Linked DNA regions of Homo sapiens: region 1 is linked to region 2. Evidence: fine-mapped expression QTL. A gene starts in region 2. The other region holds a variant in brackets. All regions are shown on one strand. Distances are between the middles of the regions.

Region 1 (5,510 bases), 49 kb before region 2:
GCACCCGCCTCACGCGGATCCACCTCCGTGAGGACCTGGTGCAGGACCAGGACCTGGAGGCCATCCGCAAGCAGGTGAGACCTGCCCCGCCACAGCGCCAGGAGGGCCCACACCAAGCAGGGGCCAGGCTGCTCGCCTCCAGCCCAGCCATCCCCAGCCCAGCCAGTGTGCACCGTGACTGTGCACATCCCCCTTTCCAACCCACCTGTAGCCCAGGGCAAGGCCTGGGGCCGGGGGAAGGGGCAAGGGTGGTGATGATGATGGAGCTGTGCCCACTCCCAGGACCTGGTGGAGCTGTACCTGACTAACTGCGAGAAGCTGTCCGCCAAGAGCCTGCAGACACTGAGGAGCTTCAGCCACACCCTGGTGTCCTTGAGCCTCTTCGGCTGTACAAACATTTTCTATGAGGAGGAGAACCCAGGGGGCTGTGAAGATGAGTACCTCGTCAACCCCACCTGCCAGGTGCTGGTTAAGGATTTCACCTTCGAGGGCTTCAGCCGCCTCCGCTTCCTCAACTTGGGCCGCATGATTGATTGGGTCCCTGTGGAGTCCCTGCTGCGGCCGCTTAACTCCCTGGCTGCCTTGGACCTCTCAGGCATTCAGACGAGCGACGCCGCCTTCCTCACCCAGTGGAAAGACAGCCTGGTGTCCCTCGTCCTCTACAACATGGACCTGTCCGACGACCACATCCGGGTCATCGTGCAGCTGCACAAGCTGCGGTGAGCTCCTGGCCCAGAGCTCACCAGGGTGGGGTTTGGGGGGCAGGTGGGGAGGAGTAGAGGTGGGTGTTGTCACGCCCTCAGGGTTCAGGAGCGCTTGGCTAGGCAGAGGGTGGGGATGAAGACACAGTCCCATTCCTTAAACCCAGTGTTTCAGCTGGATTGGGGCTGTTTGGGGTTTCTTCCCAGAATGCCCTGGGGAAGTTGTGGCAGGAATGGGCCCTCCCCTGCTACAGACTAAAGGAGCTGGGATCTGCAAGGCAGCCCCACCCTGTACCCAGCTCCTAACCTGCACCCCCTACCCCAATCTTCAGACACCTGGACATCTCCCGAGACCGCCTCTCCAGCTACTACAAGTTCAAGCTGACTCGGGAGGTGCTGAGCCTCTTTGTGCAGAAGCTGGGGAACCTAATGTCCCTGGACATCTCTGGCCACATGATCCTAGAGAACTGCAGCATCTCCAAGATGGAAGAGGAAGCGGGGCAGACCAGGTGGGGCCCCAGCCTCCATGGCTACTGGTAGGGTGTCATTCAACAGGCATTTAGGCTGGCGCAGTGGCTCACGCCTGTAATCCCAGCACTTTGGGAAGCCAAGATGGGCGGATCACTTGAGGCCAGGAGTTAGAGACCAGCCTGGCCAACATGGTGAAACCCCATTTCTACTAAAAATACAAAATTTAGCTGGACATGGTGGCAGACACCTGTAGTCCCAGCTACTTGGGAGGCTAAGGTATGAGAATTGAAGCCGGGAGGCGGAGCCTGCAGTGAGCTGAGATCGCGCCACTGCACTCCAGCCTAGGCAACAAAGTGGGACTTTGTCTCAAAAAAAAAAAAAAAGAAAGTATTTGCCAAGTACCCCTCTGCCAAGTGCTGTGCTGGGTGCTAGAGATAAAGAAACAAATCAGGTCCTGCCCTCTTGGAGGCTGTGTGAGCTGGTGGGGACAATCAAGTCATTACAAGGGCTATGGTAGGGGCAATCCAGGGCCCCGGTGTGGCCTGAGGATCAGGAAGGAAGGAGGAGGAGGGACGCATCCTGGCTGTCCTGAAAGCTCATTCTGCCTCTGCCAGAGGAAGCGTGTTCTAGCAGAGGGAACAGCACCTGCAAAGGCCAGTAGGTGAGAGCATGAGGAGCGACAGGGGAACTACCCAACACTCAGCCTGACCAGAGCACAGTGCCATGGGGGGAAGAGGCAAGGCTGGCAGTGTCTGCCACCTATGGAGTATTGCTGGACATAGGTCGGTTCTTGGATTGGTTGGTTGAGAAGTTTGACCAAACCCTACCAGCTGTAACTGGCCACCCATAAGCCCTGGCCCCAGCCTGCTTTAATGGTGTTCAGTTGAGCTTGTCCCTTTGTGATTGTTGGTGAGACCTAAAGGTGCCATGTCCTTACTAGAATGGCAGGTGGTTTCTAAAGGTGGCTGCATTGCCCATCCTATGTGTTCCCCTACTATGTGGCTTTGCCATGCTTCCATCAGGAGGTGGTGCTTATGTCCCCTACCATTAAAAACAAAAGGAGTAGGGGATGAGGTTGGAGGGCCTAGAAGAGAAAGCAAGGAAATGCCTCACCACCCCCAGTGGGGAGGCCCAGCTCAGGCCTGGGTCCCAAGCCACTGACACCGGCACCCTCTTTCCCCAGCATTGAGCCTTCCAAGAGCAGCATCATACCTTTCCGGGCTCTGAAGAGGCCGCTGCAGTTCCTCGGGCTCTTTGAGAACTCTCTGTGCCGCCTCACGCACATTCCAGCCTACAAAGTGAGCAGTGGAAGTGGGATGGGTCTGGGCCAGGGAGCCTTGGGAGAGAGAAGGAGCTGGATTCTGGGGCTGGAGACTGAGCTGGGATCTGGCATCCCAGCCCTTGGCCTCTGCTGGGTTGTTCTGAGCGTGTCCCACCCGCAGGTAAGTGGTGACAAAAACGAAGAGCAGGTGCTGAATGCCATCGAGGCCTACACGGAGCACCGGCCTGAGATCACCTCGCGGGCCATCAACTTGCTTTTTGACATCGCCCGCATCGAGCGTTGCAACCAGCTGCTGCGGGCCCTGAAGGTCAGCTCCAAGCCTGGGGCCTTGGCCTCC[T/C]GTCCCTCCCCACCTGGAGGTTGCCGGGCTTGGCTGAGCCGTGTCCCCAGAGCCTGTGTCCTTCTGCACCCTGTCCCCAGGGCCCCAGGACCCGAACCCCAGCCTGGGCCTCACAGCACTTGACTTGCTTCAGCACTGGCCTTGTTTGGTCCCCACCCTGGTGTCTGCTCCCCAGGCCCCACTTCTGCCTTTAGAGAGCAAGACCAGGCTAAACCTTGCCCCAGAGAGCCTGTTCCAGCCCCTTGCAGAGCCCAGGCCTCTCCCTGCACTTGCCAGCCCAGGTCCCCCTTGTCTTCATACAGCTGGTCATCACGGCCCTCAAGTGCCACAAATATGACAGGAACATTCAAGTGACAGGCAGCGCCGCTCTCTTCTACCTAACAAATTCCGAGTACCGCTCAGAGCAGAGTGTGAAGCTGCGCCGGCAGGTTATCCAGGTGGTGCTGAATGGCATGGAATCCTACCAGGAGGTGACGGTGAGCCCCCACCCGCCACGGCCCCGCATGCTCTGGCCCAGCCACCCCTTTCCTGCTTCTTGCGTCCCGCTAGGGCTCCCCCGGCTCTGGGCTGCATCTGTCCCAGCTCCCTTTCCCACAGCAGCACTCCCTGACTCTTGGGACCTGGCCCTTCCCACAGTCCATCACTCCTGGCTGCCCTCCATCCTCCTCCCTGCCCCATGTGGGGGTGGGGGCCCAGGGACCCTGCCCTTCTCCCTGCCTGTGCCGTCTCCTCAGCCCTTCTGCCCATACACTCTGCTGGGGGATTTCTTACCAACAGCTGCTTTTAATATAAAAGTAATAAAAGCCTTTATTATAGAAAAGTTATAATTACAGATATACAGAAAATAAAAATCACCCATAAACCCACTACCCAGAGACAGGCACCATTAACATGGGATATCAATTGTGAATTTTAGCCTATGCACACATATTTTGTAAATGGGATACACAAACTGCATACTGTTTGTATATGGTGGATTTTTACTTCAACTGTGTTGTCACATGAATATGAACATCTCCCTTATCCGCCAACAATTTTTTTCTTTTTTGAGATGGAGTTTCACTCTTATTGCCCAGGCTGGAGTGCAATGGCACAATCTCGGGTCACTGCAACTTCCACCTCCCGGGTTCAAGTGATTCTCCTGTCTCAGCCTCCCGAGTAGCTGGGATTACAGGCATGCGCCACCATGCCCGGCTAATTTTGTATTTTTAGTAAAGATGGGATTTTACCATATTGGTCAGGCTGGTCTCGAACTCCTGACCTCAGGTGATCCACCTGCCTCAGCCTCCCAAAGTGCTGGGATTACAGATGTGAGCCACTGCGCCTGGCCAGCCAACAAATTTTTTTTTCAGATGGAGTCTTGCTCTGTTGCCCAAGCTGGAGAGCAGTGGCGGGTTCAAGTGATTCTCCTGCCTCAGCCTCCCAAGTAGCTGGGACTACAGGTGCATGCCACCACACCTGCCTAATTTATGTATTTTTAGTAGAGACGGGGTTTTGCCATGTTGGTCAGTCTGGTGTTGAACTCCTGACCTCAGGTGATCCACCTGCCTCAGCCTCCCAAAGTGCTGGGATTACAAGCATGTGCCACCACACCCAGCCAACATATTTATATAACAAAAACTTTTTTTCATTTCAGATGGGCAATATGCCAACGTCCTAACATGGTTTGAGGGAGGCACATTTCACACATGAGCATGAAGACCTAATCATCACTCTTATAAACTACGAAAGGATCAAACAATAATTTTTATTTATTTATTTTTTCGAGATGGAGTCTTACTCTGTCGCCCAGGCTGGAGTGCAGTGCACAATCTTGGCTCACTGCAATCTCTGCCTCCTGAGTTCAAGTGATCCTCCTGCCTCAGCCCCCCTAGTGGCTGGGACTACAGGCACGTGCCACCATGCCAGGCTAATATTTGTATTTTTAGTAGAGACAGGGTTTCGCCATGTTGGCCAGGCTGGTCTCGAACTCCTGAGCTCAGGTGATCCACCTGCCTCGGCCTCCCAAAGTGCTGGGATTACAGGCGTGAGCCACCGTGCTCAGCCACAATATATATATATATATTTTAATTAAGACAGGGTCTCAGGCTGGGCGTGGTGGCTCACGCCTGTAATCCCAGCACTTTGGGAGGCTGAGGCAGGCAGATCATGAGGTCAGGAGTTTGAGACCAGCCTGGCCAACATGGCGAAACCCCATCTCTACTAAAAAATACAAAAATTAGCTGGCCACGGTGGCTCACACCTGTAATCCCAGCACTTTGGGAGGCTGAGGCAGGCGGATCACCTGAAGTCAGGAGTTCGAGACCAGCCTGGCCAACGTGGTGAAACCCTGTCTCTACTAAAAATACACAAATTAGCTGGGCATGGTGGCAGGCGCCTGTAGTCCCAGCTACCTGGGAGGCTGAGGCAGGAGAATTGCTGGAACCCAGGAGGTAGAGGTTGCAGTGAGCTGAGATCAAGCCACCGAACTCCAGCCTGGGTGACAGAGGGAGACTCTGTCACAAAGAAAAACAAAAACAAATACACAGGGTCTCACTTTGTTGCCAAGGCTGGAGTATAGCGGCATGATCACAGCTCACTGTGGCCTCCACCTCTCAGGCTCAAGCAAGCCTCCCAACTCAGCCTCCCCAGTAGCTGGGACAACAAGGCATGTACCACCACACCCAACTAATTTTTTTTTTTTTTTTTTTGAGACAGAGTCTCGCTCTGTCACCCAGGC
Region 2 (5,000 bases):
AATGGGTGCCAGGTTCTATTCTAAGTGCTTTGCATATATTACCACATCACTCCTCCCAGCCACCCCACCCGGTAGCGGTGGTCATTACCCCCATTTTCTTTTTTCTTTTTCTTTTTCTTTTTTTTTTTTTTGAGACAGTTTTGCTCTTGTTGCCCAGGCTGGAGTGCCATGGCACGATCTCGGTTCACCACAACCTCTGCCTCCCGGGTTCAAGCGATTCTCCTGCCCCAGCCTCCTGAGTAGCTGGGATTACAGGCACACGCCACTAAGCCCGGCTAATTTTGTATTTTTAGTAGGGACGGGGTTTCTCCATGTTCGTCAGGCTGGTCTTGAATCCTGACCTCAGGTGATCCACCTGCCTTGGCCTCCCAAAGTGCTGGGATTACAGGTGTGAGCCACCACGCCTGTACTATTACCCCTATTTTCTAGTGAGGAAACTGAGGCCCAGAGAGGTGAAGTAACTTGCCCACAGTCAAGACACAGAGGAGGGGCCACCATCTCTCGGGCCCCAGCTGTCCCTGGCAGCCCTGGGTAATCAGGCTGCTCTCTCTACATCTGGGACCCAAAGTAGAGTCCAGGAGCCACAAAAGCTACGCCGAATAGGGGTTCACACGAAGCCACATGAGAAGGCAGCCAGGGGCCTGGGAGCCAGGGCTTGTTCCCCTGATGTCCCAATGCCACAGGTAGCAAAGCAGAGGCACAGAGAGGAACTGGGGAGGTCTCCGGGTGCCCACTCCCTGCTCAGCTCCCGGGAGGAAGTAGAAGGCTCTCTCACGGCTTCACCCAGGTTGGAGCCAGGAACAGGAACACCTCCTTTCCAGCCGCCAGCATTTCAAACCAACCGGTGCCAAAGGTGACCTCAGGCCGGGTAACCCATGATGCCCCGCAACACGGGCTGTTGCAGGAACCCCATCTTACCTCTCTGTGTTCCATCTTCTCCTGAGCCCAGTGGAAGGGGCCGCAACCCCAGACTCAGGGACCCCCCCACCCCAGACCTCAGCGGGGCCTGCTGGCCCAGCTGTCAGAGGGCAAGGGCGAGGCTCAGGAAATCCTCTGACCGCCCTAGGCCACAGGGCCAGAGCCAAAGACCGGAGCAAACAAAGGTCCCATGGAGCTGGGGGCCCGGCCACCGGGGTCCTGAGTCACCCAGCTGCCGCTGCAGGGCGGAGCCCCGCAGGAAATCGGAAAATGTGTACAAGCTACGTCTGGAACAGGCGGAGGGACCTCCAGAGGAAGGGGGTGGGAGGGGGCAGACCGAGCCCCAGCCCTGAAGGCGGCCTAAACGACTGGCTTGGGCGCTCAAGGAGTCTACACGCACCCCGCAACACCCCCATGGTCCCGTCTGCCCTGGGTTGGAACTCCAACATGGACACACACACCACCTCCTTTCCGCTCTTTGCGGGGACCCACTCCTGTCCGCAAATGCCCCCCTCCCAACCACTCGCTCCGGAACAGGACACCACCTCTCCCTCCTCAGGAGCAGATAGACATGGCCTCGGTCCTCCGGGCCCACGCGCACCTACTGCCAGCTCTGGCAGGAAACCCAGCCCCCTCCGCATTCTAGAACCCGCTATGTACCCAAAGGTTCCCGCCCTGGGGCGGGGGAGGCCGCTCCCCTCTCATCTACGCTCCCCTCGTGCCTCCTGTGCTCCGGGAAGGACTCCTGCCACTGCCAAGCGCGCACAGACTGCGCCCCCCGCTGCGCGCACATTCTAACCCCCCCAGGCCCCTGTGCCCCGCCTTTCTATCCCGGCTAATTCCCGTCGGCCTTGGAGCCCCACCGAGGAGAACCGACTTAAGGACACTCTGGGGACCACCCTGGTGGCGCACACTGCGGACTCAGCCGTCCTCGCTCACGGGCTGGTTGGGGTTCAGTCTCCGGGTCAGCCGCGGACTGATTTGGAGACTGTGCAAGGTCCAGGAACCACCGAACCCGGAGATCAGGTCTGCTCTGCGAGGGCGTCGCGGGGCCGGGGCCAGGGCAGGGGCAGGGAAGGGGCGCGGGTGAGGGGAGGATCGGGGGAAGCGGCCGCGGTTCGGGGCTCCGGGGCGATGACAGAGGCTTTCTCGCACCCCCCGGGCCCGCGCGCCCCTCCCACGCCGTTCACCTGCCGCGGCGCCCCCTCCTCCATGGCGCCGCTCCGGCCGCTTGGGGCCCTTCTCTCAGCCACTCCGGTCCCGGAAGCCGCAGACCCTCCGCCAGGACTTTCAAACTTGAAACTTCCCGGGAAGCGGCGCCGGAGACGCGGGATCGGGCGCCCCCTCCCGAGACCCGCTGGCCCGCGGGACCAGCGCCGCCTCCCGTCCGCGCCGATCCAGCGCCCGGGACCCCACGCCCGAGGTCCCGCGCCCCAGCGCCTCCCTCGGATCCAAAATTCCGCGGGATTCTGGGCCCAGTACCCGGGCTTCGGCGCCTGCGGTTCCCGCTGGGCGTGACCGCGCCTCACCCCCGGTTTGGACGCTCAGGAGGCACATCGCCCGCGCCCAGGTCCTCTGGCCTTCCCCGCCGCGCGCCCGCGGGAGCCGGCCAGTTAGGGACAGGGATGGGGGAAACAGCGCCCCCTGAAGGTTGCCGGGTCGCCCAGCCGGGTGCAGCCGGTGGAGCTGGCCGCCTCCTCTAACTTTGAGCCCCTCTACAACCTGGCTCCCGCCTCTAACGCGCTGGGCCTCCTCGACCAAGCCCCTCAAGTCTCTCTTTGTCTCGCACGTTGTTGGTGTAATGTGGGCTAATCCAAAATTGTCTCTCTCCTCGGAGTGGTTGGCCCAGACTAGATATTAGTCACTACAAGAATGTATACTAGGCCAGGTGCGGTGGCTCACGCCTGTAATCCCAGCAGTTTGGGAGGCAGAGGTGGACGGATCACGAGGTCAGGAGTTCGAGACCAGCCTGGCCAACATGGTGAAACCCCCGTCTCTACTAAAAATACAAAAATTAGCCGGTCGTGGTGGCGGGCGCCTGTAATCCCAGCTACTCAGGAGGCTGAGGTGGGAGAATCACTTGTACCCAGTAGGCGGAGGTTGCAGTGAGCCGAGATCCTGCCACTGCCCTCCAACCTGGGTGACAGAGCGAGACTCCATCTCAAAAAAAAAAAAAAAAAAAAAAAAAGAACGTATACTTGTGGAAAAGTAAATCCTCACCCAAAATTATGATAAATTACAAATTACAGATGAATGAACCAGACCTCTCTCCGGCCCATCTCTTACTCAGACTGAGCTTGCTGGTTCAGCCCGTGCCACTTTTTAGGGCTTTACCCTAAAAAGCCCATCCATCCACACGGGAGAAAAGCCATTTACACCTGGTGAAATAGCCGCCACTATTTCAGCCCAAGGGAGGTGTGCTGGTCACTGCCTAGTCTATGGCGGGCCATTCAGCCCGTCCTGGCATCCTGCGTTTACAGGAGGTTGTGTCAGCACTTCGTGGAGGAGCGTCCTCCAGGAGGTGGGAAGGTGATGAAGGGTCAAATACCGACAGTGACTTGGAACAGACAGGCTCTGGTGCTCTTACTGAATGAAGGAAGCCACATGTTGTGCTTTGCACTAATCACTTCCTTCATAATGGACTGGAAAAAAGTGAAATTGGTGAGCCATGGACAACACTGGGTTGTCCTGCTATGGGAAATCACCCAAGTGGCATTGACATATAAGCAAAGGCAACTTGGCTCTGTGAAACATGCCCAGATTTCATAATCAGAGGCGAAATGTGACATTTACACATTAGAGTTGTTGAGGTCTAGACATTAGCAGAAGCACCTGGCACATAGTAGGTTCTTTGACATGGGGGTTGGCTGGGCATGGTGGCTCATGCCTGTAATCCCAGCACTTTGGGAGGCTGAGGAGGGCAGATCACTTAAGGTCAGGAGTTCAAGACCAGCCTGGCCAACATGGTGAAATCCCGTCTCTGCTAAAAAAAAATTAAAAAGGCAGCTGGGCGCGGTGGCTCACGCCTGTAATCCTAGCACTTTGGGAGGCCGAGGCAGGCGGATCACAAGGTCAGGAGTTCGAGACCAGCCTGGCCAACATGGTGAAACCCCGTCTCTACTAAAACTACAAAAAAAAAATATTAGCTGGGCATGGTGGTGGGTGCCTGTAATCCCAGCTACTAGGGAGGCTGAGGCTGGAGAATCACTTGAACCTGGGAAGTGGAGGTTGCAGTAAGCCAATCTCGCCACTACACTCCAGCCTAGATGACAAGAGCAAAACTGCATCTCAAAAAAATACATAAAATAAAAAATTAGAAAAACTAGCTGGGCGTGGTAGCGCACGCCTGTAGTCCCAGCTACTCGGGAGGCTGAGGCAGGCAAATCACCTGAATCTGGGAGGCAGAGGTTGCAGCGAGCTAAGATCACGCCACTACACTCCAGCCTGGGCAACAGAGCAAGATTCTGTCTCAAGAAAAATAAATAAATAAAAATAAAATAAAATGGAGGTTAAATGAACGTTATTATCCATCATTTAGAAGCAAAAAGGCTGACCAAGCCCAGTGGCTCATGCCTGTAATCCTAGAACTCTGGGAGGCTGATGAGGCAGGAGGATTGCTTGAGGCCTAAGAGTTCAAGACCAACCTGGCCAACATAGTGAGACACCATCTCTTAAAAAAGTAAAATAAAGAAGTAAAAAAGTCCTCAGCTTCTCACTGCAGCTCATCAAAAACCCAGGAATCAAACTAACAAGCCTTCCCCACCTTTTAGGAATTCTCCAGTGGTGCAATCAGTCCAGCCAGCTAATTAACACTTTAAAATGTGTATTTGCCTTGATGGCTAAATGTTACTTCTGGAAGCCAAGAGTAATCTGAGATAACTCTCCATAGGAGGGTGCTCACATCTCAACTCCCGGCTCATTTATCCACTCACTGCAGGCAGGAAGCTGAATTCGATGGTTTTCCAAGTTTGGTTGGAAAGTGGCTTTGTTTTTTGTTTTTTTGAGAGAGTCTTGCTCTGTCACCCAGGCTGGAGTGCAGTGGCTCAATTTTGGCTCACTGCAACCTCCACCTCCCGGGTCCA

Evidence for each region. PIP is the estimated chance that this variant, and not a neighbour inherited with it, causes the effect. A credible set is the group of variants that fine-mapping cannot tell apart.
Region 1: its variant is the best candidate, but not a certain one, in a credible set for the expression of PKN3 in minor salivary gland (GTEx, PIP 0.55).

What each region holds. Positions count from the first base shown.
Region 1 is chr9:128,748,373-128,753,882 of GRCh38, reverse strand. It overlaps ZER1 (zyg-11 related cell cycle regulator), which reads left to right. Exons shown (of 16, transcript NM_006336.4): 3 at 1-74; 4 at 283-719; 5 at 1,034-1,210; 6 at 2,356-2,470; 7 at 2,615-2,761; 8 at 3,094-3,267. It overlaps LOC124902340 (small nucleolar RNA U13), which reads right to left and starts at 4,525; the gene lies at 4,422-4,525. The variant T/C (reference allele first, on the strand shown) is at 2,792.
Region 2 is chr9:128,700,048-128,705,047 of GRCh38, reverse strand. PKN3 (protein kinase N3) reads right to left here and starts at 2,545. Exons shown (of 22, transcript NM_013355.5): 1 at 2,109-2,545. The coding sequence starts at 2,132. RefSeq lists an enhancer at 1,729-2,268 and a silencer at 2,083-2,652.